Regions from separate parts of the Homo sapiens genome. Here all the other regions are linked to region 3. The links come from fine-mapping of genetic effects on gene expression. A gene starts in region 3. Each other region holds a variant in brackets. All regions are shown on one strand. Distances are between the middles of the regions.

Region 1 (10,980 bases), 66 kb after region 3:
AGTTTGCTGAGAATGATGGTTTCCAGCTTCATCCATGTCCCTACAAAGGACATGAACTCATCCTTTTTTATGGCTGCATAGTATTCCATGGTGTATATGTGCCACATTTTCTTAATCCAGTCTATCATTGTTGGACATTTGGGTTGGTTCCAAGTCTTTGCTGTTGTGAATAGTGCCACAGTAAACATACGTGTTCATGTGTCTTTGTAGCAGCATGATTTATAATCCTTTGGGTATATACCCAGTAATGGGATGGCTGGGTCAAATGGTATTTCTAGTTCTAGATCCTTGAGGAATCGCCACATTGTCTCCACAGTGGTTGAACTAGTTTACAGTCCCACCAACAGTGTAAAACTGTTCCTATTTCTCCACATCCTCTCCCGCACCTGTTGTTTCCTGACTTTGTAATGATCGCCATTCTAACTGGTGTGAGATGGTATCTCACTGTGGTTTTGATTTGCATTTCTCTGATGGCCAGTGATGATGAGCATTTTTTCACGTGTCTGTTGGCTGCATAAATGTCTTCTTTTGAGAAGTTTCTGTTCATATCCTTCACCCACTTTTTGATGGGGTTTCTTTTTCTTGTAAATTTGTTTGAGTTCTTTGTAGATTCTGGATAGTAGCCCTTTGTCAGATGGGTAGATTGCAAAAATTTTCTCCCATTCTGTAGGTTGCCTGTTCACTCTGATGGTAGTTTCTTTTGCTGTGCAGAAGCTCTTTAGTTTAATTAGATCTTATTTGTCAATTTTGGCTTTTGTTGCCGTTGCTTTTGGTGTTCTGGACATGAAGTCCTTGTCCATGCCTATGTCCTGAATGGTATTGCCTAGGTTTTCTTCTAGGGTTTTTATAGTTTGAGGTCTAATATTTAAGTCTTTAATCTATCTTGAATTAATTTTTGTATAAGGTGTAAGGAAGGGATCCAGTTTCAGCTTTCTACATATGGCTGGCCACTTTTCCCAGCACATTTATTAAATAGGGAATCCTTTCTCCATTTCTTGTTTTTGTCAGGTTTGTCAAAGATCAGATAGTTGTAGATGTGTGGTATTATTTCTGAGGGCTCTGTTCTGTTCCATTGGTCTATATCTCTGTTTGGTACCAGTACCATGCTGTTTTGGTTACTGTAGCCTTGTAGTATAGTTTGAAGTCAGGTAGTGTGCTGCCTCCAGCTTTGTTCTTTTGGCTTAGGATTGACTTAGCAATGTGGGCTCTTTTTTGGTTCCATATGAACTTTAAAGTAGTTTTTTCCAATTCTGTGAAGAGAGTCATTAGTAGCTTGATGGGGATGGCATTGAATCTATAAATTACCTTGGGCAGTATGGCCATTTTCATGATATTGATTCTTCCTATCCATGAGCATGGAATGTTCTTCCATTTGTGTCCTCTTTTATTTTGTTGAGCAGTGGTTTGTAGTTCTCCTTGAAGAGGTCCTTCACATCCCTTGTAAGTTGGATTCCTAGGTATTTTATTGTCTTTGAAGCAATTGTGAATGGGAGTTCACTCATGATTTGGCTCTCTGTTTGTCTGTTATTGGTGTATAAGAATGCTTGTGATTTTTAGACCAATAACAGGCTCTGAAATTGAGGCAATAATTAATAGCCTATCAACCAAAGAAAGTCCAGGACTAGAAGGATTCAGAGCCAAATTCTACCAGAGGTACAAGGATGAGCTAGTACCATTCCTTCTGAAACTATTCCAATCAATAGAAAAAGAGGGAATCCTCCCTAACTCATTTTATGAGGCCAGCATCGTCCTGATACCAAAGCCTGGCAGAGACACAACAAAAAAAAGAGAATTTTATACCAGTATCCCTGATGAACATTGATGCAAAAATCCTCAATAAAATACTGGCAAACCGAATCCAGCAGCACACCAAAAAGCTTATCCACCATGATCACGTGGACTTCATCCCTGGGATGCAAGGCTGTTTCAATGTAAGGCAAATCAATAAACGTAATCCATCACATAAACAGAACCAAAGACAAAAACCACATCTCAATAGATGCAGAAAAGGCTTTTGACAAAATTCAGCAGCCTTTCATGCTAAAAACTCTCAAACTAGGTATTGATGGGACATATCTCAAAATAATAAGAGCTATTTATGACAAACCCACAGCCAATATAATACTGAATGGGCAAAAACTGGAAGCATTCCCTTTGAAAACTGGCACAAGACAGGGATGCCATGTCTCACCACTCCTATTCAACATAATGTTGGAAGTTCTGGCCAGGGCAATCAGGCAGGAGAAAGAAATAAAGGGTATTCAATTAGGAAAAGAGGAAGTCAAATTGTCCCTGTTTACAGATGACATGATTGTATATTTAGAAAACCCCATCGTCTCAGCCCAGAATCTCCTTAAGCTGATAAGCAACTTCAACAAAGTCTCAGGATACAAAATATTGAGATATTTTACTTTTCATTCTAAGTTTTTTAATTTCAGTGTGTATGTTTTACTTAGAGCACATCTCATTTCACACTGGCCTCATTTAAACAGCTCAATAGTCGCATGTAGCTAGTGGCTACCATATTGGACGGAATAGGTTGGCCAGACTATTTTATGCACATCTGTTCCCACCTAATGAAGTGCTTCACTGTCCCTGTGTCCTTGTCAGTGTCTTTCTTTTGGCCTGGAATTCTCTTCCCTTAGAGATCGGTCTCCTTTCTGCAAGATTAAGTTGCCCTCTAAGCAGAATTGGTTAACTGGATGCATATTCTCGCCTGCTCACAGTGATGCAAACTAACTACCTCCTCCCTTTGAGGCTTTTTTATCTGAAATAAACGAGTAAGAACTGGGCTGCTTCCCCAGTGCCCACACTGTCTTGCCTTAATTGTCATTATTGATGTTTATTTTGTTTTGTTTTGCTGCTAGTCCTTCTCATAAAGGCTACAAGTCTGTTAAATTCAGGCATCTTAGTGCCTTTTTAGTAGTCTTTGTTAAAGAAAAGTTGTTCGATGCACTTGTTAAAGCATGGGACAGCAAACTTTATTCAGGACCATCACAACAGGTATCAGGACCACTGCAATGGGATTTCACAGTGGGAGAGATTGGGCTCAACTTCGAATACAGCATGGGCAAGTGGAAATTTATAACCAAGAAGCAGGATGGGGGTCATTGGATGGAAAATTACTAAGAGGAACCATCAGAAGTTAAGGAGATTGTCGCCAACTCAACCTAACAGTAGGAGCAAATAATCTGTCAACCTCCCCACCCCAACCTCAGTCTAGCAACATGCTGAGCACACAGCAAGCTGAGGGGAGATGGATGGAAGCTGAAAGTCAGTGTGTGGGTGATGTAGTGTTTCACCCCTCTGAGAGCAAACTACAGGTGCTCATTCTTTAACCTGTGAAGTGGAGAAAGCAATGTAATAAGAGCACATGGTAGAGTCCCTCCAAAAGTTTTCCCATCAGATGAGCTTTCTAAGTCATAGACTCCCACTGCCTAAGTGGAGAAAAATTCATACCCTATTTTCTCCCAGCCTAGTGCTCCCTTCACTATCCTGTGCCTTCCTCCAAGCCTGCAATCTGTGCCAGGTGATTCATCTCCCACTTGGCCCAAGGATGGCCTTTGTGCAGCACATCAACTGAGAAGCTGGGCTCGTATTCAAGCCAGTGAGTCATCCCTGAGCATTGATCAGGTTGGGGCAGGGAACCAAGGGTTGGTGGGCTTTTCCCTAGATAGGAAACTCATGAGGAAATAGCCTTCATGACTTCAGACTCAGTTGCAGAGTGAAGTTGGTATTCATTCATTCAACAAAGGGTTTTTCAAACACCTGCTATCTGGTATTGGGCATATTAAGGTGAAAAATCCAGCAAGCCTCTGGGGTCATGGAGTTTGCTGGGAATTATGGTGGCAAAAAGGAAAAGGAAGACCAAGAAAGCCTAAAGCTTTGTTTCCATCTATAATTTCGCCTCTCTGAGCCATTTGCCCAGTGAGGGGCTTGGACTAAACAACCTCTAGAATCTATTGGTCTGTGTCTCTGTGGTCTATGTCTTCTTTCATCGTGTCCCACACTAGATCCCTGGGAATCCAGATGGAAAGAAGGAAGGAAATTAGTATTTGTTGAGTGCCTACATGCCAGGCATTAAACAGTGCATATTAGCTCATTAAATCTTCACAATCCAGTGAGGATGTTCCTTTAGTTTTGGGGTGAGGGACATTAAGGGAATGGGTTCTCAAGACAAGCTGCCTGAGTTCTGGCCTGAGGCTGCCCGCTGACCTGCGTGACCTGAGTTCTTGACTCCTCTGGGCCTTAGTTCCCTCCTGTATGACAGAAAGTCATGGATTTTGACGA[G/C]GGCTGAAGTCGATTAAACAAAGGCAGTAAACGTAATGCCGGCACATAATAAACACTCAATCCCTCAGTCTTTTTTAAGTCTAGCAGCATTTTCTTTATTCACATCGTAAGCCATGTTTGAAAAACGAGAAAATCCCAAACTATTGGAGCATTACAGACAGGCGATTTAGCATATTGAGAAAGCCCAATTTGAGTTTTGATATCAGAAAATCTGGTTTGGAGTCTTAGCTCTAATACTTCCAAGAGGTGACCCAGTGAGTCACTTAAAATGTTTTCCCTGTACCAGTGTCTACTCCTCAGGGTTGTTGTGAGGATTCAATGAGAATGATGTACCTGGCACTCTACAGGAGCTCAACAATAGCTATTTATCTTACCTCAAATAGAAACCCATTTACAATAGTTAAGTGAAAAGGACATCATTTCGAGCTGCTGCTCAGAACCCAATGGAGGCGAATTCAGCTGGGAAAGGATACTGGAAAGGCTATTGCTAAGACAGAAAAACTCGACCTCATCCAAGAGCAGCGAGACACCCTACCCTCAACCCCCAGGTTTTGTCACTGGGCCCTGTGTGAGTGGCAGCAAAGATGGCAGAGTTGTGAAGGTGCCGTGGGCATTTTTGGAATGACTCAAGAACATCTTTGACTCAGCACGGGCAACAGCCAGATGGACCTTGTGGGTGTGAACCTCCCGAGCATTTGGAGCGGAGGCTGGAGAAGCTACCCAGGGAACCCCAGCCCCCAGGGCCATTGTGCAAACCCGCGTGGGCACTGCCGGAGACACACACTCTGCCTGCTTCAGCGCTCCTCTCCCCGGGCCAGGGCTGCCAGCTCATCCTGCCCTGCCTGGCTGGGGTGGCAGAAGGTGAATCCCAAAACAGGCCACTGGCTCCTCTCATTTTCTACTCCTTTCTCTTTTGTCATTTATTAGTTTTAGTTTTAATTTTCAAAGATGATGCAAGCTATTGATGAGTATACATTTATTGCAAAAGAAAATCGGATAATATAGAAATATAGTCATGCATCACTTAACAATGTAGATACAGTCTGAGAAATGCTTCTTTATGTGATTCTGTCATGTGAACATCGTGGAGAACTTACCCAAACCTAGCTACTATAACCTAGATCGTATAACCATATGATGCAGCCTATTGCTCCTGGGCTACATACCTGTACGGCATGTTACTGTACTGAATTCTGTAACACAGCATTAAGTATGTGTGTATCTATCAACTCTAAACGTAGAAAAGGTGCAGTAATACCTTAAAAATAAGGTATGTTGTATGTGCAGTCTGTCCTCAACCGAAATGTTATCACTATGCAATGCTTGACTGTCTATGGAGTGAGGGTCCTCCATGCATTGCTGCCTTTCATAAGCCCAGTCTGGACTGCCCAGCAGAGTCACGGTTATCACCAGAGTGTCCACCTCCTTGCTCGTCTTGAGGTCTTATACTTTGCACCAAGCTGCCTTGGTCACCTGTTTAATGATTTTAGGACTGAATTGTTTCAGAAGGGAAAGAGCATCATAATTTTCTGACACATATTTAAGCATATTTTTCTATCAACATGTAACATTTTGGTCAAGTGCCACTAGTTTGAGGAATTCTTTTTCAACTGGATTTAAAGAGGCTCTGAAGGCCAGCAGATGCAGTTTTGCTGCACAACTTAAAGAACTTCCTTGATCTTCTAACAACACAATATTCAACCAAGAAATAATGATAATATCACTTACTCCAGAAGACTCTTGTGAGGGTTAAAAGAGGGAACAGATGTCAGCAACTACAATGCCTGGCACAGGTGAAGCCTAATATTAGTTCTGGTTATTTTATTAGAATCTGTTGTTGGCCTTACAGTAGAACTCTCAGTAATTTTTTACCGTATTTTCATGTTTTATTTTTTTATTTTTTTATTTTTGAGATGGAGTTTCGCTCTTGTCGTCCAGGCCAAAGTGCAGTGGCGTGATCTCGACTCACTGCAACCTCCACCTCACAAGTTCTCTCTTCTTAGCTCACCTCCACCCTGGGGTCCCCTCTTTCTTCCTGCAGCCCCCAGAACAAGCCGACAACCAACCTGCCCTCAGATAACTCCCCATCATGTCATCAGAAGAGACATGCACTCAGGTGGTGGTGCACAGGCTTAGGGGGCAGGCGGGAAGTCTCCTGGCCCTAGGAAAAGTTTCCTTCACAAAGCACCTGCTGTGGTAGGTGCTTTGCTAAAGCACACAGTCTAAATGAACTAGTTTACCCCTTACTATGTAATAATGAGTAGGTTGGCACCCTCCCCAGAAGAGTAAACAGAAGCCTGGGAGCTCCATGACCTGCCCAAACCACACGGCCAGGATCTAATCCTGGGCCAGCCTGACTCGAAAACCCGAGTCATGTCAGTGCTAACTGTGACCAGAGGACTGCTTGCATCAGAATATGTGGACATGCTTGTTAAAAAGGCAGATTCCTGGGCCTCTCCACAGACCCACTGAGTCAGGACCTCTGGGGCAGGGCCTGGGGATGTGCATTTATCACACCTTCCTGGTGACTCTGAAACATACCAACATCTGAGAATCCCTGCCCTGTGCTGTACTGCCTGCCTGTGCACTGAACCAGGGGGACCCAGCAGAAGACAGCTAGGAGAAGGGGAAGTTGTTCCAGAAGGATCAGAATCTGTCAACACCTGTTTATTAGGAAGATCTAGTGGCGTTTTTGGGAACCAAAGGAACAATGAAGGTCCCTGAGGACACCCCCACTATAGGCCATGCTAGAGGCCTGGTGCCCTGCACACATTTCTAGCTCCTTTCACCAGTTCCAAGAAAAGACAGTGTTCTGAGAGGGCACGTACATTCACAGAAGCAACAAGGCAGCACCAGCTGTGGCCCACTGGACTATCTTGGCTTCCCACCCTGACTCAAGGGCTGGGCATCCCTGATGGCCCTGTGCACCCCACCCCCATGAGTGTAGCCCACCCTGAACTGGGGCTGAGTGCTGCCAATGTGGTTGGCCCTCTGATAGGGTTTGGCTGTGTCCCTACCCAAATCTCAACTTGAATTGTATCTCCCAGAATTCCCAGGTGTTGTGAGAGGGACCCAGCAGAGATAATTGAATCATGGGGGCTGGTCTTTCCTGTGCTATTCTCGTGATAGTGAGTAAGTCTCACGAGAACTGGTGGGTTTATCAGGGGTTTTCGCTTTTGCTTCTTCCTTATCGTCTCTTGCCACTGCCATGTAAGAACTGCCTTTTGCCCTCTGCCATGATTGTGAGACCTCCCAGCTATGATGGACTGTAAGTAAAATTAAACCTCCTTTTCTTCCCAGTCTTGGGTATGTATCAGCAGCGTGAAAACGGACTAATACACATCCTTAGTTGGAAGGGAGCCAGAGGGGTCAGAAACATCCTTTATGGTGGAGGGGGCACTTTATGTTGGTTGTCTAAGTGAGTTTGGGCTGCTAGAACATGAACACCACAGACTGGGTGACTTAACAGAAATGTATTCCTCACAGTATGAAGTCTGGGAAGTCTAAGATCAAAGTGCTGGCTGATTTGGTTGTTGGTGAGAGCTCACTTCCTGGTTTGTGGAGGGATGCCTTCTCACAGTATCCTCACGTGACTGAGGGAAAGCTAGCTCACTCCCTGGCTGCTCCTTAAAAGACACTCATCCCATTCATGAGGGCTCTACCCTCATGATCTAATTACCCCCCAAAGGTTCCACCTCTAGACACTATCACATTGGGGATTACAGCTTCAAAATATAAATTTTGGTGAGACACATACATTTGGTCCATAGCACTGACGTCGTCTCATTTTGTAGTCCAATAGCAGGAAAAAGAGGGTCAATTATCCCCACTTTATAGATGAGGAAGATGAGTTCTGAGACAGGGTACGGAGGTAGAGTAGAGGGGGAAAGAAGCTAGATGAAGGGCGTCATATCCCCTAATTTGTCCTGAGGTAGGGAGGGGGAGAGCTGGTAGCTGTCACATGAGTGGTCACTATATAGACAAATAGTGGGGCCCACTTCCAGGGCAGGACTCAGAAGCACTAGTGGAGGGTCCAGTCCAGAGAAGGGACTCCACAAATGATGCCGCTGTAATTATTGTCTGATCATCTATTCATCACACATTTTCTGAGTACATCCTCTGTGGTGAGCACTACTCATATGTTCTTTATCATCCTCATGGACATGACACCCCACTTGGCCTGCGGTGGCTGGAGACCTGGGGAGGAGTCATATCACAGCTTTTAGACCCACTCTGACATCGAGGTTAAATGCAACTTTAGGGCCAGCAAGTACAAGCCTTATTCTGCCACTTACTAGCTGCAGGGCCTGGGGTGGCACTTGGCCTCCCAAGGGAAGGTGCTCTTTTCCCCATTTTACAATTGAGAGGACAAGATATGAGAGGTGAAAATACAGACCTCCCTGACTAGAATTCATTCTCCCAACCACCATGCACACTAGTGTTTCCCAGAGGTGGTCCTGCAGGCTTCAGAATCTTGTGAGGTGTTTGGAGAGTGATTCCTGACCCCTCCTCCGACTCAGTAAATCTTGACAGTGAGGCCCCAAAATATGAATTCTTCACAAGCTCTGAAGGTGATTCTTATGTGTGTTGGGGCTTGAGAATTGGCTCTCCTGCCTCCTCATTTCCAGTCTTTAAACAGGGATCTGCACAGCAGCAGGCAGCAGAAGTAGGCAGCGCTCTGGAAATACAGTTGGCAAAAGCTCTCTCCCTTAAAACTAACAGGGAGAGAGCTAACTCCATGACTGGCATGACATCTGTGAACAAAGGAAGTGACAGGGCCACCAAGAACTGCTGTGGGCCAGTGAGAGCAACAGAAGACCAGGTCCTAGCCTTCCCTGCTGAGAACTTTACCCATTGCCTAGTGAGAAGGAACTGGAGATGCCATCAGAGCTGCATCGTAGTAATGCTGGTAGATTTCAATTTTTACAATTTATATTTGTTATGAATGTATTCACCATTCCTTAGAGTATGTTTAATTATCCTCAGTCTTTGTTCTGCTTTTAAAATCCACATTGAAAAGGCAAAGTGACATGTGCTTAAGAGGTCTTTAATAAATACTTTGGTCAAGAACAGGGAGGGGGTAGTTTAATTCCTCCTGATTAGACCCGCCTACTTCCCGGCCATCTGAAATTTAAATTTAAGTAAAAGTCAGTATGCTTTCTAAATAAATGCAGTTTCACAACACAACCTTTAGCCCACACTCAAGCAACTATATGGCTGCCCCTAATTCCTCCTCTATTGACATTCAGGAGCTGCCAGGGTTTCTGTAAAAGTACCTGAACACAGTGGATCAACCAACAGTGGCTCTGGGGTTTAGAGTTTTGAGCAGCAGCTCAGAATGATATCCATCTGCCTTTCTGAATCACAGCCAACTTCTGGCCTCTCTGCACAGATTTGGTGCAGGAAACTAGCCATACCCACGCCCACACCCACAGCTCGCCCCGTGCCTCCTTCATCTTCATAATTCTGCTCCCACCCTCTTCCCTCTTCCTTGCCCTTCAAGTTGCAACACTGAACTGAGTTTATGGATGATGCTCAACAATTTATTGTTGATTAACTGATTGATTGATTCTGTTGCTATGGAAACCATCAGATTCTAGTACAACAGTGGGATTCCTTCCTGACTTTATGCTTGACAAAATGCTGACTCTCTGTGCTTGCTTCTCCCAGCTTGCCACCTCCATCTGGGTCAGGAGGAGCAATTGGAAGCAGAAGCTCCAAGAGAAAGGTGGGAATGTTGGTAAACCCAGGTGAAAAAAAGCAACAAGGAGGGTAAGTGGCCCTGCAATGTGGAAATTTCCATCAGAAGCAGCCTACACAGTGATTATAAGTGTCAGGGCTTTTAGATCAAGCTATACCTGGGTTCAAATCTCACTTCCTCCACTTATTAGGCTTAAGGTTAATTAAGCCTTTCAGCCTTCATTTTCTCATTTGTTTTAATTGAGATAATACTGTGCCTTTAGGTTGCCTGGAGAAATTACGAAATGATACAAGGAAGTTAGAAAGCAGAGTGCCTGGTACCTACGGGAGCCTTGCCCAGGCCAAGAGGGATGCAGACCTCCCATTTTTTAAGGCTCTTAGATAGAAAGTGAATAGCAACAATATTACATAAATTGAGGAAGAGCTTTATGTATACATTTTTTTGAATTATCACTTTTTTAGTACAAAAATACAATGCAAGATTATAGGAATTCTAGAAAATATTAATTCAAGGTTCCTCATGACTCTGTGTCTAGAAATTAGACACAAAGTCTGAATGATAAATATCTTCTTCTCAGGAAATCTTTGTGATTTTATTTATAAATTGTTTGAACATGATGTCATAGTCGAAACTTGTGGTCCTTTGTGACTGAGCTGCCCAGCATTCTGCCTCAATAAACCTCCCTGGACAGGGTAAGTGTTCATTTAGTGATGGCCACACCTGTCATCCCAGCACTTTGGGAGGCTAAAGTGAGTGCATCACCTGACATCAGGAGTTCGAGACAAGCCTGGCTAACATGGTGAAACCCTGTCTTTACTAAAAATACAAAAAAAATTAGCTGAGTGTGGTGGCGGGCACCTGTAATCCCAGCTACTCAGCAGGCTGAGGTAGGAGAATCACTTGAACCTGGGAGGCAGAAGTTGCAGCGAGCCAAAATCAAGCCATTGCACTCCAGCCTGGGCAACAAGAATGAAACTCTGTCTAAAAAA
Region 2 (10,980 bases), 82 kb after region 3:
GATTTTTGAAATGATAAACAAAATTGATAACCTTTTAGCTGGACTAAGAAGAAAAGAGAGAGGACTCAAAATCAGAAAAAAGGAGACATTACAACTGATACCACAGAAATACAAAGGAGCATAAGAGACTATTATTAACAATTATATACCAACAAATTAGATAACCTAGAAGAAATAAGTAAGTTCCTGAAACATATAGTCTACCAGACTGAATCACAAAGAAAGAGAAAATCTGAACAGACCAATAATGAGTATGGATATTGAACAAGTAATAAAAAGCCTCCCATCAAAGAAAAGTTCAGCACCTGATGACTTCACTACAGAATTCTACCAAATATTTAAGGAACTAATACAAATCATTCTCAAACTCTTCCAAAAAATTCAATAGAGGGAACACTTTCAAACTCATTTTGCAAGGGCAACATTACCCTAATACCAAAACCAGACAAGAAAACTGAATTATAGGCCAATATCTCCGATGAACATAGATTCAGAAGTTCTCAACCAAATACTAGCAAACCAAATTCAACCACACATTAAAAGGACTGCACACCATGATTAAGTGGAATTCATCCCAAGGGTGCAAGGATGATTTAACATATGCAAATCAATAAATGTGATATATCACATTAACAGAATAAGGGATTTAAACCATATAATCATCTCAATAGATGCAGAAAAGGCCTTTGGCAAAATTCAATTTCCTTTTTTAATGTCCTTTTATTTTTATTTTTTTGAGGCGGAGTTTCACTCTTGTCACCCAGGCTGGAGTGCAATGGCATAAACTTCGCTCATTGCAACCTCTGCCTCCCAGGTTCAAGCGATTTTCCTGCCTCAGCTTCCAGAGTAGCTGGGATTACAGACACCCACCATGATGCCCAGCTTATTTTTGTATTTTTAGTAGAGATGGGGTTTCGCCATGTTGGCCAGGCTGGTCTCGAACTCCTGATGTCAGGTGATCCACCCGCCTCAGCCTCCCAAAGTGCTGGGATTATAGGCATGAGCCACTGCACCTGGCCCTTAACGTCCTTTTATGATTAAAAAAAAAAAAAAAACCTCAACAAATTAGATACGGAAGAAATGCACTTCAACACAATAAAGGCCATAGATGACAATTCCACAGTTAACATCATACTCAATGGTGAAAAGCTGAAAGCTTTTCATCCAAGATCTGTAACAAAACAAGCATGCCCAATCTTGCCATTTCTATTTAACCTAGCACTGAAAGTCCTAGCCAGAGCAATTAGGCAAGACAAAGAAATAAAAGGCATCCAAATCCTAAAGTAAGAAGTAAAATTGTCTCTGCAGATGACATAATCATAAATAGAAACACTAAAGATTCCATAAAATCTCAGTTAGAATTAATAAGCATATTCAGTATAGTTGCAGGTTATAAGATCAATATACAAAAATTAGTTTCTATATGCTAAAACTACTCAAAAAAGAAATTAAGAAAACAATCCTATTTTAAAAAGCATCAAAAAGAATGAAATACTTAGGAATATATTTAACCAAGGAAGTGAAAGACCTATAAACTATAAAACATTGATTAAAGAAATTGAAGATGACTCAAATAAATGGAAAGATACCCTATGTTCATGAATTAGAAGAATATTGTCAAGTGTCCTTACTACCCTAAGTAATTTATAGATTCAATATAATCCTTATCAAAAATTCCAATGGCATTTTTCACAGAAAATTCATATGGAAATACAAAAGACCCTGCATAGCCAAGGTAAAAAGAACAAAGCTGGAGGCATTACACTATCTGACTTCAAAATATATCACAAAGTTATGGTGATTAGCACAGCATGGTACTGGTGTGAAGACAGACACATAGACCAATGGAACAGAGTAGAAAGCCCAGAAATAAACCTATGCATTTATGGTCAGCTAATTTTTGCTAAAAGTGCAAGAACACACAATGGGGAAAAGACAGTCTCTTCAAATAAATGGTGTTGGTAAAACTGGATATCCATATGCTGCAGAAGAAAAGTAGACCCTCATCTCACACCACATAAAAAGTCAGTAAGAATGGATTAAAGACTTAAACATAAGACTTGTAACTATAAAACTGCTGGAGAAAAACATAAAGGAAACTTGCATGACATTTGTCTTATTTTTCGGATATAACTCCGAAAGCATAGGCACAAAAGTGAAAATAGGATGGTATCAAACTAAAAAGCTTCTGAACAGCAAAGGAAAAAAATCAACAGAGTGAAGAGACAACATACAGAATGGGAAAAAATATTTGCAAACCATATATCTGACAAGGGGCTAATATCCAAAATATATAAGGAACTCAACTCAAGAGCAAGAAAACCAATAACCTGATTTTTAAAATGAGCCAACAACCTGAATGGACATTCATGAAAGAAGACATGCAAATGGCTGACAGGTATATGAAAAATGGGCATCACTAATCATCAGGGAAATGCAAATTAAAACCACAATGAGATATTACCTCACACCACTTAGAACGGCTACTTTTTATCAAAAAGACAAAAGATAAGTGTTGGTGAGGATGTGAAGAAAAGGGAACACTTGCACACTGTTGGTGGTAATGTAAATTAATACTGCCATTATGGAAAACAGTCTGGAAGTTTCTGAAAAAAATAAAAATAGAACTACTCTATGATCCAGCAATCCTACTACTGGGTATATATTAAAAAAATCAGTTTGTCAAAGAGATATTTGTACTCCATGTTAATTGCAACATTATTCACAATAGCCAAGGTATGGAATTAACAAATATGGAATTCATTGTCCCTTAATGGATCAATAAAGAAAATTATATATATATATATACACACACACACACACATACACACACACACACAATGGAATACTACTGAGCCTTACAAAAATAAGGAAATCCTAACATTGGTTACAATATGGATGAATCTGGAAGACATTACGCTAAGTGAAATAAGCTAGGTACGGAAATATAAATACCATATGATCCCACTTATATGTGTAATTTTTAAAAGACATACTTAGGCAGAAAGTAGAATGGTGGGGCTAAGAGCAGGTGAGAGTTGGGGAGATGTTGATCAAAGGATGAAAAATTTCAGTTAGATAGGAGGAATAAGTTCCAGAAATCTATTGTAAAATATGGTGACTACAATTAATAACAGTGTATTATATTCTTGAAAATTGCTCAAGGAAATCAGAGAGGACACAAACAAATGGAAAAATGTTCCATGCTCATGGATAGGAAGAATCAATATCGTGAAAATGGCCATACTATCAAAAGTAATTTATAGACTCAATGCTATTCCCATTAAACTGCCATTGACATTCTTCACAGAACTAGAATAAACTATTTTAAAATTCATACGGAATCAAGAAAGAGTCCATATAGCCAAGAAAATCCTAAGCAAAAAGAACAAAACAGGAGGCATCATGGTGCCCAACTTCAAACTATACTACAGGCTACAGTAACCAAAACATTATGTAATGGTACAAAAACAGACACATAGACCAGTGGAATCAAATAGAGAACTCAGAAATAAGACTGCACACCTACAACCATCTGATCTTTGACAAAGCTGACAAAAACAAGCAATGGGGGAAAGATTCTCTATTTAATAAATGGTGCTGGGAGAACTGGCTAGCCATATGCAGAAAATTGAAACTGGACCCCTTCCTTATATCTTATACAAAAATTAACTCAAGATGGATTAAAGACTTAAATGTAAAATCCCAAACAATAAAAGCCCTAGAAGAAAATGTAGGCAATACCATTCAGGACATAGGCATGGGTAAAGATTATATGATGAAATGCCAAAGGCAACTAGAACAAAAGCTAAAATTGACAAATGGGATCATTTTAAACTGAAGAGGTTCTGCACAGCAAAAGAAACTATCATCGGAGTGAACAGACAGCCTACAGAATGGGAGAACATTTTTGTGATCTACCCATCTGTTGAAGATCTACTATCCAGAGTCTATAAGGAACTTAAACAAATTTATAAGAAAAAAACAACCCCATTAAAAAGTGGGCAAAGACATAAACAGACACTTCTCAAAAGAAGACATTCATGCAGCCAACAAACATATGAAAAGGAGCTCAACATCACTGATCATTAGAGAAATGCAAATGAAAACCATAATGAGATACCATCTCATGCCAGTCAGAATGGTGATAATTAAAAAGTCCAGAAACAACAGATGCTGGTGAGGCTGCGGAGGAAAAGGAATGCTTTTACACTGTTGGTGGGAGTGTAAATTAGTTCAACCATTGTGGAAGACAGTGTGGCATTCCTTAGAGATGTAGAGGCAGAAATACTATTTGACCCAGCAATCTCATTACTGGGTATATACCCAAAGGAATATAAATCATTCGTTATAAAAATACATGCACGTGTATGTTCATTGCAGCACAATTCACAATAGCAAAAACATGGAATCAACCCAAATGCCCATCAATGATAGACTGGATAAAGAAAATGTGGTACATATACACCATGGAATACTATGCAGCCATAAAAAGGAATGAGATCATGTCCTTTGCAGGAACATGGATGGAGCTGGAAGCCATTATCCTCAGCAAACTAATGCAGGAACAGAAAACCAAACACTGCATGTTCTTACTTATAAGTGGGAGCTGAATGGTGAGAACACATGGACACATGGCAGGGGAACAACACACATTGGGGCCTGTGGGGGGTAGGGGTCGGGGGGAGGGAGAGCGTCAGGAAGAATAGCTAAGGGATGCTGGGCTTACTACCTATGTGATATGATGATCTGTGCAGTAAACCACCACGGCACGTGTTTACCTATGTAACAAAACTGCACATTCTGCACATGTACCCCAGACCTTAAAATAAAAGTTGAAGGAAGAAAACCAGAAAATCACTAAGAGTAGATTTTTAATGTTCTTTCTCACCACAAAAATTATAAGTAGGTGAGGTAATGCATATGTTAATTAGCTCAATGTAGCCATTTCACAATGTACATATTTCAAAATATGTTGTTACATAATAAATGTATACTTTTTTGTTAGCTACACCTCAGTAAAGCTGAGGAAAGCAAGAAACCAACTTTGGATTTGAGTGTGCCCAAACCAGTGGCCAAAACCAGATTTTTGTGTGTGTAGTTAGCTCTATGTACAATTTTTTCTGTCTACACAGTTGAAACCACTAGGAAGACAGAGTATTTGCCTCGAAGCTCATTGCAGATTCTAGCAGTTTAATTTGGATGAACTGCTTGGCTTCAGAAAGAGACATGTATTGCAGTCAGGCACCCCATGTGCACAGTTAACAGAGCCCACTCAAACAGTGAAACATTAAAATCTAGTGCAAAGGTCCTCTGTGCTTCATCCAGAATTTTATAGGACTCTAAAGCCCAAACTGACCATAGGAATCACTTTTTGTGACCCAAATGTGATCCATCAAAAGGATGTGATGAAGAGAAAATTCAGGCAGTTCTGAACCAGAGCCAGAGGAGACTGTGTCGGAAGCTGTGTCTCAGCTTTGAAGACATATGTAGCCATAAAATGAACATAACATCCAGAAACAATCTTGCCAGAAGTTGTGAATTATTGGCAAAGGAAAATAACTGGGCATTGTTTGAACAAGCAAAGACATTTGAAATCTCCTGGTTCTCAAAATCACTGTGTTGCCCTAGGGCAGGTCCCAGGCCTCATCATGGCAGGAGCGGGGCAGGTGGAGACTGATGGTAGAGGGGAACTCTGTGTACTCTAGTGCCAACCTCAACCCAGAAGTGACTATCATTTGAAAGTTGAAGGAAAGCTGAGAATCTGCATGAGACATGTATAAGATAATGAGGAGGACCCAAGCTCTCCAAGGGCAATCAGAATCAAGCATCCACACAAGATGACACAGGCAACTTCTCACATAGAGCCATTTTCCTAGAGCCATTATCTTTTCTCTCAGTTCACAAAAACATGTGACTGCCCTCTCAAAACGTCCTGTTATGAATTGAGCACAGTCCCCATTTGTAGTGTGAAAGGGCAGAGATCCAGTGGGGTTAATTCTCATGATCTGAAAACCATTGAGTGCATAGCATTTAAAGCCACTGGGTTTGCTCCATTCTAAGTCTTTTCAATAGATTTTAATTTGACACTGTTAAATTATGCATTCATGTATCCATTCACTTCTCAGCAAATATATATTGCCACTACATGCCTTCCATCTTGAAATGTCATAACCCCAGCTCCCATCCCATATGGGACAGCTTCCTCTTTCACTCTTTGTAATTCCTTCTCCTTT[T/G]GCCCAGAAAATTTTCTCATGATAAGCATTGTGGTATAATTTAACAATGTCCATGATCTGTGTGATGCACTATGTGTTTTCTTTTACATCTATATTTTCTTCTACGTGATGTATGTATAATGAGTATTATATGGAGAAAAAGCCAGAGATTTAAATTTGAAAGTTTGGTGATGCTGCCTGCAGAATATAATCAATAGCCTGTTCCCAGAGCCCAGACAATGGATCCTCATTACACCCTTTAAACCGGTATTAGAAACATGCTGCTCCTTTGACTACCTCCTCCACGTCAGCCCTCTACCCATGTCTTAATGGGCATCACCTTTCTTGACTGTATATTATCTTCAATCCATTTTTCACCTGGAGTTCCTGGCGTAAGCCTAACCCTTAACATCTTTCTGGTGTCTTTCTAAGGGAAGAGGGGAGTTGAATGCCTCCTGAATAATCTCTTAAATTTTAATTTAGGCCGTCTGACTCACTCTTTTAAGATCATTCAGTAACTTCTTATTACTTTAGAATAAATACAGACTTTTTTGCTTGACATTCCAGGAAAACTGGATTCTCCTTATCTCTCCGGCATCCTCTATTGCCCTGAACACACTGTTCATATTCTGTTTTTCTCATTCTGAAAATAGGAAATGCAGTCAAACCAGTAGTTCTCAAAGTGTAGTCTGTGGGCCAGTAGCCACAGCATTCCCTGGGTGCTTGTGAGAAGTGCAAACCCTTGGTCTTTATCCCACATCTACTGAATTAGAAACTCTGGAGGTGAGGCCACTATCTTAACCAACTATTTTAATCATCCAGATGATCCTGAAGCTTGAGAACAATTAATTTTTATGTGTGATGGGGGCAGGGGCTTGCTCTGTCTCCCAGGCTGGCATGCACTGGTGTGATCACAACTCACTGCAGCCTCAACTCCTGGGCTTAAGCGATCCTCCCACCTAAGCCTCCCAAGTAGCTAGACCTACAGGCATGCACCACCATGCCTTGCTAACTTTTCTTGTGAAGGCAGAGTCTCAGTATTTTGCCCAGGCTGGTCTCGAACTCCTGGACTCAAGAAATCCTCCTGCCTTAGTTTCCCAAAGTGCTGGGATTATAGGCATGAGCCACCACACTGCACCAAGAACAACAGATTTAAACCATTTCACATGATGGAAGGCACCAATTAAACACATATAAAATGTCTGCTTAGCCTAGTCTAAACTACCAAGGATTGGAAGACTTTAATTTCCTTGGGAGGTCTCCCAGCAGGTTACTGTGGCTTTTATCCTGCCTTCTCACTTTTTGGAAGCTCTCAGAACAGGGAAGTCCTTCAGAGGAGAGAATATCGGTCTCCTTGTCCATGTTCTCATCCCTCCCATTTTCCCATGCCTCTGATTGTGTGCCCTCTGTTCTACCTCCTCGGTGTTCCTACGTCCCTGGGAAATAAAAAGTAGTTGCTTCCCACGAAAAGATGAGAATGTTCTTCAGAGTAAAAGTGAAGTCTTTTAAAAGCCTCATTTGAGATATTGTGTTATCATCCCATAATATGTTAACTGAAGGGAATGGAGAGGGAAGAGGCACCTTCGTTCAGAGTAAAGTAATTGAAAAGCTTAATATACACCGAACTGTGTCTTTACAGGGTCCGCCGCATCTTGGAAGGAAACTTCAAAGCTCATTTAAAGTCAGCCTCTCACATAGCCCTGCTGGTCTAACTTTCTTCTGAATGTGATTTCAGAAGTAAAACCAGGCCAGGGGCTGGGACTCAGGTGAGTCTCACTGACCGTGACCTCTGGAGAGTCAACTGAAATGGTAAGCCAGGAAGTCATGGAAATCTTACCTCCCCTGCAGTAACAACGTCTACTCTCAAAGAAATGCCAATGGCACAGAAACCACAGGGGTTGTTTATCTCTTTCTTTTTTCTTTTTAAACATTATAAAAATAACACAGCAATTTCTAAATGTCAAAAGAGAGAGAAATGAAGCTATCCATAATTTCAAAAGCCTATCCTAGTAACTACTGTAGATTTTTGCCTGAGCTTTTTAGGCTTGGGCCATTTGTGCTCTGTGCTGATGCGTGCATTGTGTTTTGAAGTTTATCTTTTTTTTAACCTTATCATTCATACATTTTCCCCAGATTGTTGCCAGGTAAACCATGCAATCCAGAATTATGGACTATCAGAGCTATAAAGGGTTTTGGAGATCATTTTCTGAAGCAATTCTTAATTGGCTCTTCAAAGATGAGCTTTTGACAGTTTGTGTCACCCCTGAAATTATTTGTGAAATTCTACACTGAGTTTGTGAATCTTTCTACAGATAGTGTTATCCCTGTATTTCATTAGATCTTCAAAGTGGTTTACACGCCCTAAAGGTTGTCTATTCTTCTCATGCAGTTATTCTATGTGCAGTCATTCAAGCTGTGTTTTACTCAACTTGTTGTTGGAGGGAAGGGGGAATAGCACATAGGCTATAATATCCTCTAGAGTTGTGCAGTACACAATTGCACAGCCATGGATGGTGGACTGACATTCTAATCCATCCTTATTTTGTGGTTGGCACCACAGAGCTGAGGAGTAATTTGCCCTGTTTCCATAGCTCTTTGCACACATTTCTTTAAACACACTTGCATTATATTGAAATGATTTGAGAGGATCTGTTTAATTCTAGTACTTAGTATTAAGAAACCCACCGTTGCATACACTAATGCTATGTTTTCCAATATCAGCTTTATTACTAACAAAATTTACATTTTATTTTCCCTCTGCTTGACTTCTATTTTTCAATTGATTCCAAACTTAGATAGAAAAGAGAGATGCAATTCATTGTCCCTGAAACCTTAAACATGTACATGATGAGTCGATCAACAATTCATAAATAAAAGAAGAACAAAAAATAGCTATATAAGACAGTGAGGACTAAGAACGGATGAAAAATGAATTCCTTCTCTAGTCCTAACTGCTAGAAATGTTTCCCCTGAGGGTATTTTTGTACTTTGTCATTTCTCTATTTAGAAACCTCAGCTCCCTCTTCTATTAAATTTTGCAAGGGCTTCTGATAATCTTAACAATTAATAGCTAGTGCTTACAGTTCTCAAAACACTTGCAATTACATTAGCTCATTTGAGTCTCAACAGGAACAGGTGTCGTCTCCATTTTACACAAAAAGAAAAAATAACTCAGCAAGATTGAGTTATTTGTCCCTGCAAGTGGCAGAGCTGGGACTCGAACAGGGTATATCTGACTTAAATACATCACGCCAAGTCCCAGTGCCAATGTGGTAGACGCTGCCAATGGGTGCCAATGTGTGGTTCTCCTCTATGTCCAGATAAGTAAGACTGTGCTTCCTTGCCCTCTTAAAGTTGGCTATGTTTGTGTTACCAGATATAGCCAATAAAATGAGAACAAAAGGGATGTGTGTTGCTTTTGGACCAAGTGCTTAAGTCTTAGTGGTCAACTCACCAGTTTTCCCTCTTCCCTTGCTACAGCTTTTAACACATGGAAGCACTTTAAAAAAATTCAACTTTTATTTTAGATTTGGTGGTACCTGTGCAAGTTTGCATTGTGTGATGCTGAGGTTTGGAGTACAATTAATCCCATCACCCAAGTACTGAGCATAGTACCCAATAGTTAGTTTTTCAATGGTTCCCTCCCCTTTCCCTTCCCCCTCTAATTGTCCCCAGTGTCTGTTGTTTTCATCTTTTTGTCTATGAGTACCTAATATTTAGCTCCCACTTATAAGTGAGAACATGTGGTATTTGGTTTTCTGTTCCTGCGTTAATTCACTTAGGATAATGGCCTCCATCTGCATCCATGTTGCAAAATACATTATTTCATTCTCTTTTATGGCTGCGTAGTATTCCTTGGTGTATATGTAGCATGTTTTCTTTATCCAATCCACCATTGATGGGCACCAGGATTTATTCCATGTCTTTGCTATTGGGCATAGTGCTGCAATGCGTATACATTTGCATGTATCTTTTTGGTAGAATGTTTTGTTTTTCTTTGAGTATATACCCAGTATGGGATTGCAGGGTCAAATGGTAGTTCTGTTTTAAGTTCTTTGAGAAATCGCCAACCTGCTATCCACAGTGGCTGAACTAATTTACATTCCCACCAACAACGTATAGGCATTCCCTTTTCTCTGCAGCCTTGACAGAATCTGCTATTTTTTATTTTTAAAATAATAATCATTCTGAATGGTGTGAGATGTTATCTCATTGCGGTCTTGATTTGCATTTCTCTGATGATTAGTGATGATGAACTTTTTTGCATAGGTTTGTTGGCCACTTGTATATCTTGTTTGAGAAGTGTCTGGTCATGTGTTTTGCCCATTTTTTAATGGGGTAATTTGTTTTTTTGCTTGTTCAATTGTTTAAGTTCATTATACATTCTGGATATTAGACCTTTGTTGGATGCATATTTTGCAAATATTTTCTCCCATTCCATAGGTCACAGATTACTCTGTTAATAGTTTCTTTTGCTGTGCAGAAGCTCTTTTGTTTAATTGGGTCTCACCTGTCAATTTTTTGTTGTTGCAATTGCTTTTGAGGACTTAGTCATAAATTATTTCTCAAGGCCAAAGTCTAGATTGGTGTTTCGTGGGTTTTCTTTTAGGATTCTTACAGTTTACAGTCTAACACTTAAATCTTTAATTCATCCTGAGTTAATTTTTGTATAAGTGAAAGGGATCCAATTTCACTCTTCTGCATATGGCTAGACAGCTATCACAGAACCATTTATTAAATAGGGAGTCATTTCCCCACTGCCTAT
Region 3 (10,980 bases):
CTACAAATACCATCTTAACTTTCCAAGCCCCTTTATGCATCCAATGCAACCTGTTATCAGGTCTGCTCCTGGGGCACCTACTACCACATCAGTGTAATTACACCATACAACTTCAAGCCCCAACTGATCATAGTAACTTCCAAGTCACTCAAACAGCTCCATTCAGACGGCTTGTCCACGTCTCAGGGGCCCCCAAAATCATCACCTCCTCCCTGCTTAACAAACAGTCCAGGTTTTGTAATGGCAAACATACTCTCTGCATGACCATTCACCCCTGGACCCCCTGCAGCAGTATCCCCACCACTAGTGAATGCCATCTCATCCCCTCTTTCAATCGCTCTCTCGAATGGTTCCTAGTAGATACAAAATGGTTTTTTCTCCAATGGGAAAATAGAACACAGGGAGCCACTCAGTTTGCTCCCAACACCCCTTTCCAGCCACTCATAGCAGCTATCTTGGCAAGTATTCTAGGAGTATAGGAAAATGAAAACAATAAACTCACACACCTTTATAACATACACAACCAGTTCTGTCTACCCAGCCAAGGTATATTCTTCTTATGTGGAATGTTGAACTATATCTGCCACCCCACTAACTGGAAGGCACCTGCACCTTAGTATTTCTAAGTCCCGACATTAACATTTCCCCAGGAAATCAGACCCTATCAGTACCCCTCAAAGCTCAAGTCTGTTAGTGCAGAGCCATACAACTAATACCCCTACTTATGGGGTTAGGAATGGCTACTGCTACAGGAACCGGAATAGTCAGTTTATCTACTTCATTATCCTACTACCACACACTCTCAAAGGATTTCTCAGACAGTTTGCAAGAGATAACGAAATCTATCCTTATTCTACAATCCCAAATAGACTCTTTGGCAGCAGCGACTCTCCAAAACGGCCGAGGCCTAGACCTCCTCACTGCTGAGAAAGGAGGACTGTGCACCTTCTTAGGGGAAGAGTGTTGTTTTCACACTAACCATTCAGGGATAGTATGATATGCCACCTGGCGTTTACAGGAAAAGGCTTCCAAAATCAGACAATGCCTTTCAAACTCTTATACCAACCTCTGGAGTTGGGCAACATGGCTTCTCCCCTTTCTAGGTCCCATGGCAGCCATCTTACTATTACTTGCCTTCGGGCCCTGTATTTTTAAACTCCTTGTTAAATTTGTTTCCTCTAGGATCGAGGCCATCAAGCTACAGATGGTCTTACCAATGGAACCCCAAATGAGCTCAACTAACAACTTCTACCGAGGACCCCTGGACCGACCCGCTGGTCCTTTCACTGGCCTAAAGAGTTCCCCTCTGGAGGATACTACAACTGCAGGGCCCCTTCTTTGCTCCTATCCAGCAGGAAGTAGCTAGAGCAGTCATCACCCAATTCCCAACAGCAGTTGGGGTGTCCTGTTTAGAGGGGGGATTGAGAGGTGAAGCCAGCTGGGCTTCTGGGTCAGATGGGGACTTGGAGAAATTTTCTGTCTAGCTAGAGGATTGTAAACACACCAATCAGTGCTCTGTGTCTAGCTAAAGGTTTGTAAACGCACCAATCAGTACTCTGTAAAAACACAGCAACCAGCGCTCTGTGTCTACCTAAAGGTTTGTAAATGCACCAATCAGCACTCTGTAAAAATGCACCAATCGGTGCTCTGTGTGTAGCTAAAGTTTTGTAAATGCACCAATTATCACTCTGTGAAATGGACCAATCAGCGCTCTGTAAAATGGACCAATCAGCAAGATGTGGGCGGGGCCAAATAAGTGAATACAAGCTGGCCACCAGAGCGGCAAGCTGCTCAGCTTCCCTTCCATGCTGTGGAAGCTTTGTTCTTTTGTTCTTCACAATAAATCTTGCTGCTGCTCACTCTTTGGGTCCACACTACCTTTAAGAACAGTAACACTCAACACGAGGGCCCGTGGCTTCATTCTTGAAGTCAGTGAGACCAAGAACCCACCAGAAGGAATCAATTCCGGACACACTATTTTCCAACAAGTTCTCCATCTGGCTTCTATTTTAAATTCATTAAAAGTAGGATAACATCATATGGAATGTAAAAAATTGCCAAAACTGAGGGCAATTTATGCAACTGCTGAGATTCACTCCAGATCCTCAGAGGAACTTGCTATGTAATGAAAAAAGAGATACACAATCCATCATCCCATCACAGGAGGCAAAATGAACTAACTTCTAGGCCAGAGGAGAGAGTAACAAGGGAGGGAAGGATTCATTACAACTGGAGGATCCTGGAAGGCTTCCTAAAAAGGGGGCATTTGAGCCTAAAAAGGGGCCATTTGAGCCTATCGGATGATTAGCTTTTGGCAAGGAAAGAAGGGAAATGGCACCCATGATTTCCTGACTCCCAGAAAGCCCCTGTCCCAGCTCTGAATGTCCCAACTGACACATTCTCCCAGGCCCTACTTATTCTCTGCACCTCCCTTGGTATACCCCACTTTTCACAATAATCACTCTTTCTACCTTGCATTATAGTTAATTGTGTGCATGCCTTATTTCTCTTGCTAAGCCATAAGGTCTTTGAGGAAATGGAATCCATTCACTTCATTTCTGCTTCCCCATCCACTGAGCCCAGAACTGGCCCATCACCAGCCTCTAATATATGCCTGGAATGTATGGATAAATGAGTGTGAACTGGGCCAGTTTTAAAAAGTGTTCAGATTCCTTCAGACATTTATTTAATAATATGAATTAAAACATCAACTCTGTGTGAGGCATTTGTGCTAAGTGTTGAGGATAAAAGTGGTACACATGGGCATGGGCCTACCCTCAAGAAGCCGATCACATAAAGTGGTGGCAAACACTAAATAAATGAATAAATATTTGTTGAGTTGCAATGGTGACTATTTTTAAGAAGGAAAAATAGAGAACAATGACAGATGAAATGTACCTAGATTCACAAGGTGCCAGGCACTGGGCACTACCCACGTGTTAACTCATTTGGTCCTTATCACAGTCCTAAGAGGTACAACCTTTTTACAGATGAGAAAACTGAGACACAGGAGAGTCAAAGAACTCCCCAAGACTAATAGCTAGTAACTAGTGTGGCTAGTATTATGGGAGAATTTCACAAAGGGACCTAATCTAGTCTGTCTACTTAGGGAAGGCTTTCCCAGGGAAGTGACATCAAGCTGAGGCCAGAAGGGTGAATAAAGGTGGGCCAGGCAAAGAGGCCACTGTGGGGAGTGTTTTGGGTGGGAAGGCCTGGAGGAGGCCAAGGGCTTAGCTAACTTGAAGAACTGAAAGGAAAGCAGTGAAGCTGGTGGTGAGGTAGGCAGAGGCCATGCTAAGAAATTTGTATTTTATGCTAAAAACAATGTACACTTTAAGTAGAAAAGATGATCCGACTGGAGTTTTGAAAAGCTCATCCTGGCAGCTGTAGAGGAGAATGGAGGGGGACCCTGTCTCACATATTTCCTATATGTGGTTAGGAGACAGGATGGTGAGTTGAATTGGGTATTGGCAGTGCAGGTGGAGGGGTGTCAGATTTGCTATATTTAGGAGAGAGAAGCAAGAGAATTTGAAAATTGGTTATGGCAGCTGTGAGAAATGGAGTGTTGAAGATGGTGCTCCAGGATTCCGACTTGGGTGCACAGGTGGCTGGTGGTACATTTAGTAAGATGGGGAAGATGGAGTTCAGGTTTAAGGGGAAGATGAAGACTGAAGTCCTGGCCGTTATGAGTTTGAAGCCCTATGAGCCATCTACGCGGAGAGAGCTGTATACGCTCTTGGATGTGTGTTTAGCGGCCAGGCTGGGGTGGAGAGGTACATGTGGGAGTTGAGGCTTGTATCTGTGGACCCACAGAGAAGGGAGCCAAGCCCTGCCCCAAGGAGCCCTCATGTTTGCAGGTCCTGCCTGCTTCAAATGTTACTGGTGATAACCTACATGTCACATTTGACAGGGCTTCCAAACTAAGCCATCTAAGAAAGGTCTTATGATTCATGGCTTAGATCCTGTCCCTGAGTAAAAAATCTTACTGTGAGTCCTTCAAATCCTTTTGTCAGTTCCTCAAACTGCTGATGTACTGATTAGTATGTAAAATACTGACATTGAAAAGAACACTGACTTGTTTCTGAATCATATAAACTTTGATTTTCTTGTGCACAAAACATTTTAGCCTGTATGTTGTCATCTGCAGCCAGTGACTGTAACCTGTGTACCATACCCTCCGATGAAAAAAATCCCACCTCTGATATAAGGGGTCCTCCTCCCTTTTCCTAAACTTTCTTCTAAAACCCTTCCAACGTGTAACAAATTTTGAAACATGCCCAACTTTGCTGGTAAGTCTTCTTGGGTGGATCCTCACATTTAGCTTCCAATAAATCAAATTATTTCTACTTCAACAGCCTTAATTTCCGTGGACACTGGTCAGAGTATTTCCTCCTGTCTTTCCATCATCCACTTCCTATGAGCTGTTCAGAAGCAGCTCTCTGCAGCCCCAACACCCACCTACCTGCAGGCCCCCCTCTCTCTGCTGGCTCCCGGAACAAGGCTCTGATTGGGATGGCAGAGGAAAGAGAAACGGGACCAGCAGCGCTACTCAGGCCTCGAAACTCCACACTCACTACCGTTTCCGCGCCACCCTCTCACGCGGAGCTCCTGGAAGGGTCCAGCGCTCCCTCTGCAAGGCACCGTCGGTCTACACCGCTCGATTGGCCTTTTATGGCACTGACTGTTCTTTGAAGCTTTTGCAGCTCCTTCTAACCCGATTTCACCGTGTTGGAAATGTTGGGGGTGGGGCGTAAAGGGGGCCATCCCATCCACAGAAAGAGTCGCTTGCAGAAATGATTTTAAAACTCCCGGGTGCCAGGACGTGAGGAGAATCCGGCAGGGAGGGACGGGAGAATTTCCAAAGGTGCCGCTCAGTGGGAAAATCCCTTTGTCAGAGAGTGGCCCGAGGGGCGCGGAATGCAGCCGCGCCCACCCCGCCCCGCGTCACCGCGTCTTCCGGAAGCTCCACGCCCCTGGGTACTTGGTTTCCCCGCATGGTTCCGGAAGAGCGCGGCGCAGCTGGCTGTGAGCGCAGGGCTATCCCGGCGGCCGCTTCGGCAGCCAGGGCGGCGCGGAGGGGCAGGGCCAGAGGGAAGCGCTTTGTTCCGCGCGTGGTTCCCGCGCCTGGGGGTGCGCGGGAGAGGCGCGAATCCGAGTGCCGCGCGCGGCCCGGGGACTTGCACGGGCGTGCGGGGTGGAACCGCAGGAAGCGGAGCTCTCGGGTTCCCGCCCCGCCCCGCCCCGCCGGCGGCGGAGGCAGCGAGCGCGAGAGCCCAGCGGAGTCGCTGGGAGCCTGAGGCACCGAGACACAAAGGCAGGCGGGATGCGGGAGCAGGCAAAGGGAAAGCGAAAGCCGCGCGCCCGGCCGGTGACTGGGTGAAGGCGCCGCGCAGCTTTCCCGACGCCGGCTGTACCCGGACCTCCTGGTCGAGCCTGGCGCGCCGCAGCCATGGCCATCGCTCAACTGGCCACGGAGTACGTGTTCTCGGATTTCTTGCTGAAGGAGCCCACGGAGCCCAAGTTCAAGGGGCTGCGACTGGAGCTGGCTGTGGACAAGATGGTCACGTGCATTGCGGTGGGGCTGCCCCTGCTGCTCATCTCGCTGGCCTTCGCGCAGGAGATCTCGATTGGTAAGCCTCGCCCAGGACGGAGGGGAGTGGCCGCCCCGGTCTGGCCCGGTGAGCTGCGATTTTACGGCTCACAGGCCCGAGTCTGGGTACGCCCAGCTGTGATGGTCGTGAGCGTCAGGAAGGGCAGTGGCCCCAGTTTTATGGTCCAAAGCGTTCTTTGCCCAGGTGTTTCATTGGTACCCTGGTCTACTCTGCTCGCATCCCTACTCCTCAGTTCTTTTGTTCCTCATGCCCCTCTGATCGGACTGTGGCTTATAGTTTATGTTCCACCCTTAGAACTGGCACCTTGCCACCAGATTTGCCAAGAATAGCTGTGTCCCCGTTTTTCACCCCTGTCTCCTACATATTTGTCCAGCCGCCTAAAATTTTACACCAGAGAAGTTCCTGAGTGGCTACATGGAGGATGTGAAGACCGGTGCTCCATGAGAAGTGTGTTCTTTCAGTGTCTTACATATAATTGGTATTTGCTGAGATCTTAGCTCTCTAGGGTTGTGAATGATAGGAAATATCTGCACTTGGCAGGCATTAGAGGGATCCTCAACTTGGACGGTCTTACAAATGTGAGATGAACAAGTCCCCTTCCTGTAAATTATCATTTGAGCTTCATAACAGTTGTGTGAGATTGGAAAGTCTGGTGGTTTGGGCAGGATCACGTGGCTACGTGCCTTACCTTCCTCATCAGCTGTTCTGACTCTCCACACAGGAGAGAGTGTTTATGAACCAACAGGAAGGTAGCGCAGGAGGGTTAAATACAGTTCTGTGGCAGGGGAAGAGAGAGGACCCAGTGCGGCTGGACTTTGGGAAAACTTTTGTCAGAGGGTGGGTGGGATTTGGACAAGAAGGAGTAAGACCTTTGTTAAGGTTTTGAGATGGCAGAGAATGTTATATGTTCCTGGAAAGAGAGACACAGTGACTCTCCTAGCCAAGGCAGGAGGATAAGTCAGAGTTCCTGGAGTCTGAGAGTGAATATGGGCCTGGGTCAGCCTGGAACAGAAGAGTGTAGGCTGATGGTTTCAGAACTGTGAAGTTATTGTTTGAGCAGAGGACAGACTGGTTGAATGATGGTGGCATTTAGGGTCTGGGAAGAAGGTGAGAGGATGGGGCCTGGAGGGCTGGGTGCCAGAGAGCAAGGCATCGGCTGAGGTCTTGTGCACAGAGGGTGTGAAGAGTGGAAGAAAATGGGTGGGTGATTGCTGTGCGATCAAGGAGTAAATAAGCAGCACTTGAGTACCTAGTATTTAATAGGCCATGAACGGCAGTACTGGTCAAACGTGCTGCGGAGGTTGTATGTCTGGGTGAGTGGAGTGTGGTGTTGGTGGTGATGGGAATTGTGAAGTTGAGGGAATAGTTGATTAGGAAAGAATGACTATGAGTGTGATTTTGCAATCTGCAGCACTAAGTTGTTCAGCTTGGCAGGAAGTTGCCAAATTCATTGTGGAAAATAGTTTTTAGTTTTCCTGCTCTTTGCGCAGGCATAGTCATCGGGATGTTCTTTAAGTTTCCATTTGACAGTGGATTGAGGCTTCCAGCTGAAAGCAAAACCACCAAGTAGCATGAGTCCTGGAGATAATCTCTCCCTTTGGTCAATTCCTCCTTCAGTACTGGCTGTGTGCTGAACTCGGTGCTGACCTCCAAGGACCCGGGAGTAAAAGAGGCATGATCCCTGTCTTGGAGGTGCAAGTCTTGGGTACCTGGTTGGGACAGAAAGGCAGGAGGAAGGAGTTAGTCACCCTCTGTGACCAATCTCCACCTCTAGCACATGTACTAGAGGGACTCCTAAGGCACCTGTACCTGTAATGCCTTAGATACGTCTAAATTGGTGGGCTGTCTGAGAGGTATTTTTGGGGTATTGGGAGTGGTTTTAACTAGCAAGAGTTTGAGCTCATGCTGTGTGCATAGCACTGTTGTGTGCTGAGGGAGATGGGAAAGGATTTTGAGACCTTGTTCTTGCCCTGCCCTCTCCCTGCCCTGTGGCAGTTTACTATGCAGTTGGGCACTAGAAGGTATCTGTTAGCAGGTAAGTCATTCAGCTGTGTGTAATTCAGCACCCAGCCAGGTGTTGAGCTATGAGCTCCAGGCTGGTGAAGGTTGGCAGGCACTTGGGTGAGGAGCTGTCAAGCAGACTCCCATGTTTTCTGAAGTGTTTTCAGGAGTTCCAGGGGAGGACAGACATGTGGGATGAAGCTAACAGGACCAGGGAAGACCTATTAGATTAGGTATACATTTAGATAAAACCAGAAGAAGGGCTTTTGAGAAGAGGGGAGAGGTACATAGATTAATACATGGAGTTGGTACAGTGGGAGGGATCATGTCATGCAGCATTTAATTTTGTGTAGTTAGTAGTATGCACTCAGCCAAAAACAAACCAAAAAAAAGAACAGCAATAAAGGGAGAATGAAGTAATTGAAATGGAGCTGGCACTTTGCCCACCATATTGGCCAGTGAACTCAGGCCCCGGGAAGACACTGAGATAAGGCCTGCAGACTTAAAACATGGCTTCATCCTTCCTCTGTTGATAATTACTGCTTCCCTCTCTGGTGCTTGGAATACTCTTTTGTTGAACTTAACACAGAGCTTTATAACCTGTCTATGCATGTTTTGCATGGAGATTGAAACTACTCTATAAACATTTGTTGTGAATTAAAGGTGATAGCTTTTGGCATCATCAGACCTTGCTAATTGATTGTTATGTGCATGATGCTGTACCTTGGCAATGGGGTGTCAGACACACGTAGGACATAAGAATCTTTCCTCTGGAAGCACGGTCTAGTAGAGAAGTTGAACGCATAACCCTCCTAATGCAGGATTCATGGAACCTGGGCAGTGTCAGAAGTGTGTACTAAAGCCTGATGCTGTGGAAAGGCAGAAGGAGGGGTTTCTTCTGACTCATGAACAGTGAGAGTTTCAGGGCAGAGTTGGCCCCTGAGGCAGGATTCCAAGTGTGTGGAGCAGTGTTGGCTGAAGCTGAGACGTGTGAGACAACATGTGGCTGCTGGAGCTTTAGTGGCACCGTCACATGGAGAGGTGGGAGCCAAAGTAAGGGTCCAGGGGCTCCACATGAAAGAAGGCATAGCAAATCCCATTGTTTTCCTGTTTGTGTTGGGGGGGTGGTGTGTGTGTGTATAAAATTAGAAACGAGAAAATCAGCTGTAATTACATGTTTTTCCTTTTTCCACCTGTATGATAAACTAGTATATATAAGAATTCATCTCTTTTGATATAAAATCCCCTCAAGCGTAAAATAAATTATATTTTCCAGTTACTTTCCAAAAATTAAATTTTCTGTCAACTGTTGTTTGATAAAATAGGGTTCAAGTTGAAACTTTGTGGCGATTTTTCCTTTAAATAAATGATTTTTTACTTTAAAGAAAATCTATTAAATCAAGAAATGTGCATGGATTGTGCTTTAGATTTAAGAGCAGGTTCTCTGTGGGGGTGGGAGTGTTGTAGGTTAGAGAGAGGGAATGTCCTCATATGATAAAATACTTGGCTTCATATTAAAGGCTTCCGTTTGGTCTTTGGCCTTTTCTCTTAGTAGTTCAGCCCACTGGGCTCCTCTCAGAAAAGAGGGACTGAGCCTGCCTGGGCCACAGAGACCCATGGGCATAGCAGCAGGCTGATCTTTATCAAGCCCTGCTGGGTGCCAGCATGGTGGCTGCAGGTGAAGCGTCCACTCCTCAGAGGTTCTGGCCCCTTCCCTCCCACAGCAGTTCACGCAGGTCCTGCATGGTAGGCACTGGTGTGGGGCTACCTGGGCTGGTGGGGACTGTGTTGGGGACAGAGAGCAGAAGGGACTCTGCCTTGCTCATTCACCAGATCTTGGTCTGGCTGCCCACAATCACAGGTTGAGGGTCACTGCAGAAGTGATGTGGTCTGGAGGGGCATGGCAAGGCTGGTGCCATGGTCAAGGTGGAGGCAACTTTGGTAGTCTTTGCGGCAGCCACTCATTGGTCCAGATGTGCCCTGTGATAGTGAGAATTACAAGCAGAAACCCTCCTGAGGGAGTGGCAAGGAGACTCTTCTGAGTTGTGCCTGGGAGCATTTTGAAGGCTTTTGGACAGTGAGATACTAAGGATTGAATGTAAGAACTAAAATGTGCACCTGTCTGGTTAGGCCTGATACTTCTAGTCAGCCTTTCTAAAATACTGCAGGTGTGCCTCCTCTGAGATTCAGCTGGGTAGGGGGAAAATAAGTGACACACAGCAAAAGACAGTTTAATTGTGAGTTTGGGCTAGAAAGGCTGTGTGGTGGGAGCCAGAGAAGGGAGAATCAGTGGTTTCACCAGCCCTCATTTTTCCTTCCTCTTGTCTTCTACCATGTCTTGCCCTCAACAAGTGCTCCATAGGAATTTAGTGAAGGAAGTGCCAGAGCACACTAGGGAACTCTCCCAGAGTGGCTGTGCTGAGGGAATGGACGGAGTGTTCTGGATAAGGGTCCCAGTTGCTTGGAAGTGCGCCCTCTGAGTGCCATTTAATGATACAAGTGCTGTCCTGGGTCAGGCCTGTCCTGGCCACCTCCCAGACACCTGCCTCTGATGATAGCAGTAAAGGATGCACATCGTCATGATAGGTAAGTTGTCCCACTTGATTTATAAGCTCAGGTTATATTGCGTGTGCCTCAGATTCTTTTTTATGTTATTTTTGTGATGAGGAAGAATCTGTGTTCAGAGTGCAGAATGGTGTACTGTGGAAGAAGGATGAGTGTGATCTGTGTGGCTTGGGTACCCTATGGGTGTCACCTTGTGCAAGCTGCTGGGAGACAGTGCCTTGAGGCCCTTCATTTCTAACACATCTACTCTCAGATGCCTCTAGAAGTGCTGCACATTTCATTGATGGGGGGAGAGGTTTAGGAAATGGCTGGGCGACAGCTTTGTGTAGAATATAAGCATGATTGCATGACGTGACCTTCAAGCTCTGAAATTCTAGAAGTATTTCTCTAAAGTTATGAATTCCCTTAGTGTGCTGCAGTTATGGACTGAATGTTTGTGTCTCCCAACCGCAAAATTCATATGTCGAAGTCCTGATCCCCAATGTGATGCTAATTGGAGATCCCTTTGGGAGGTAATTAGGTTTGGATGAGATTATGAGAGTGGGACCTTCATGATGGGATGCCCTTAGAAAAAGAAGAAATCCCTCTTTCTCTCCCCCCTCCCTCTTCCTCTCCCCCCTCCCTCTTCCTCCTTCTCTCCCTCTTTCCCTCTCTCTCCCACTACCCCCCTTCCTCTCTTCTTCCCTCTTCCTCTCTCCACAAGTGCGGCCACAAGGAAAGGTGTGTGAGCACGCTGGGAGAAGGGGGCCATCTGCAAACTAGGAAAAGAGCTCTCACCAGACACCGAATCTGCTGGTACCTT

Alleles and levels. Positions count from the first base shown, and alleles are read on the strand shown. Sizes are in standard deviations (SD) of each study's normalised expression. Not every link is listed here.
As copies of G replace T in region 2, the expression in spinal cord of the gene that starts at base 4,978 in region 3 goes up (large effect, 0.88 SD a copy in GTEx).

Evidence for each region. PIP is the estimated chance that this variant, and not a neighbour inherited with it, causes the effect.
Region 1: its variant is fine-mapped to the expression of PANX1 in whole blood (TOPMed, PIP above 0.99).
Region 2: its variant is fine-mapped to the expression of PANX1 in spinal cord (GTEx, PIP 0.93).

Annotation. Positions count from the first base shown.
Region 1 is chr11:94,189,930-94,200,909 of GRCh38, forward strand. It overlaps LOC105369435 (a long non-coding RNA gene), which reads left to right and starts at 7,480. Exons shown (of 5, transcript XR_947901.3): 1 at 7,480-10,062. The variant G/C (reference allele first, on the strand shown) is at 4,291.
Region 2 is chr11:94,206,228-94,217,207 of GRCh38, forward strand. LOC105369435 (a long non-coding RNA gene) reads left to right here. Exons shown (of 5, transcript XR_947901.3): 3 at 7,855-8,024. Among named protein-coding and RNA genes, the nearest start is that of PANX1, 83 kb to the left of the region's middle. The variant T/G (reference allele first, on the strand shown) is at 6,237.
Region 3 is chr11:94,123,864-94,134,843 of GRCh38, forward strand. It overlaps PANX1 (pannexin 1), which reads left to right and starts at 4,978. Exons shown (of 5, transcript NM_015368.4): 1 at 4,978-5,630. The coding sequence starts at 5,450. RefSeq lists enhancers at 4,911-4,970, 5,291-5,550, 9,370-9,869 and a silencer at 5,201-5,270.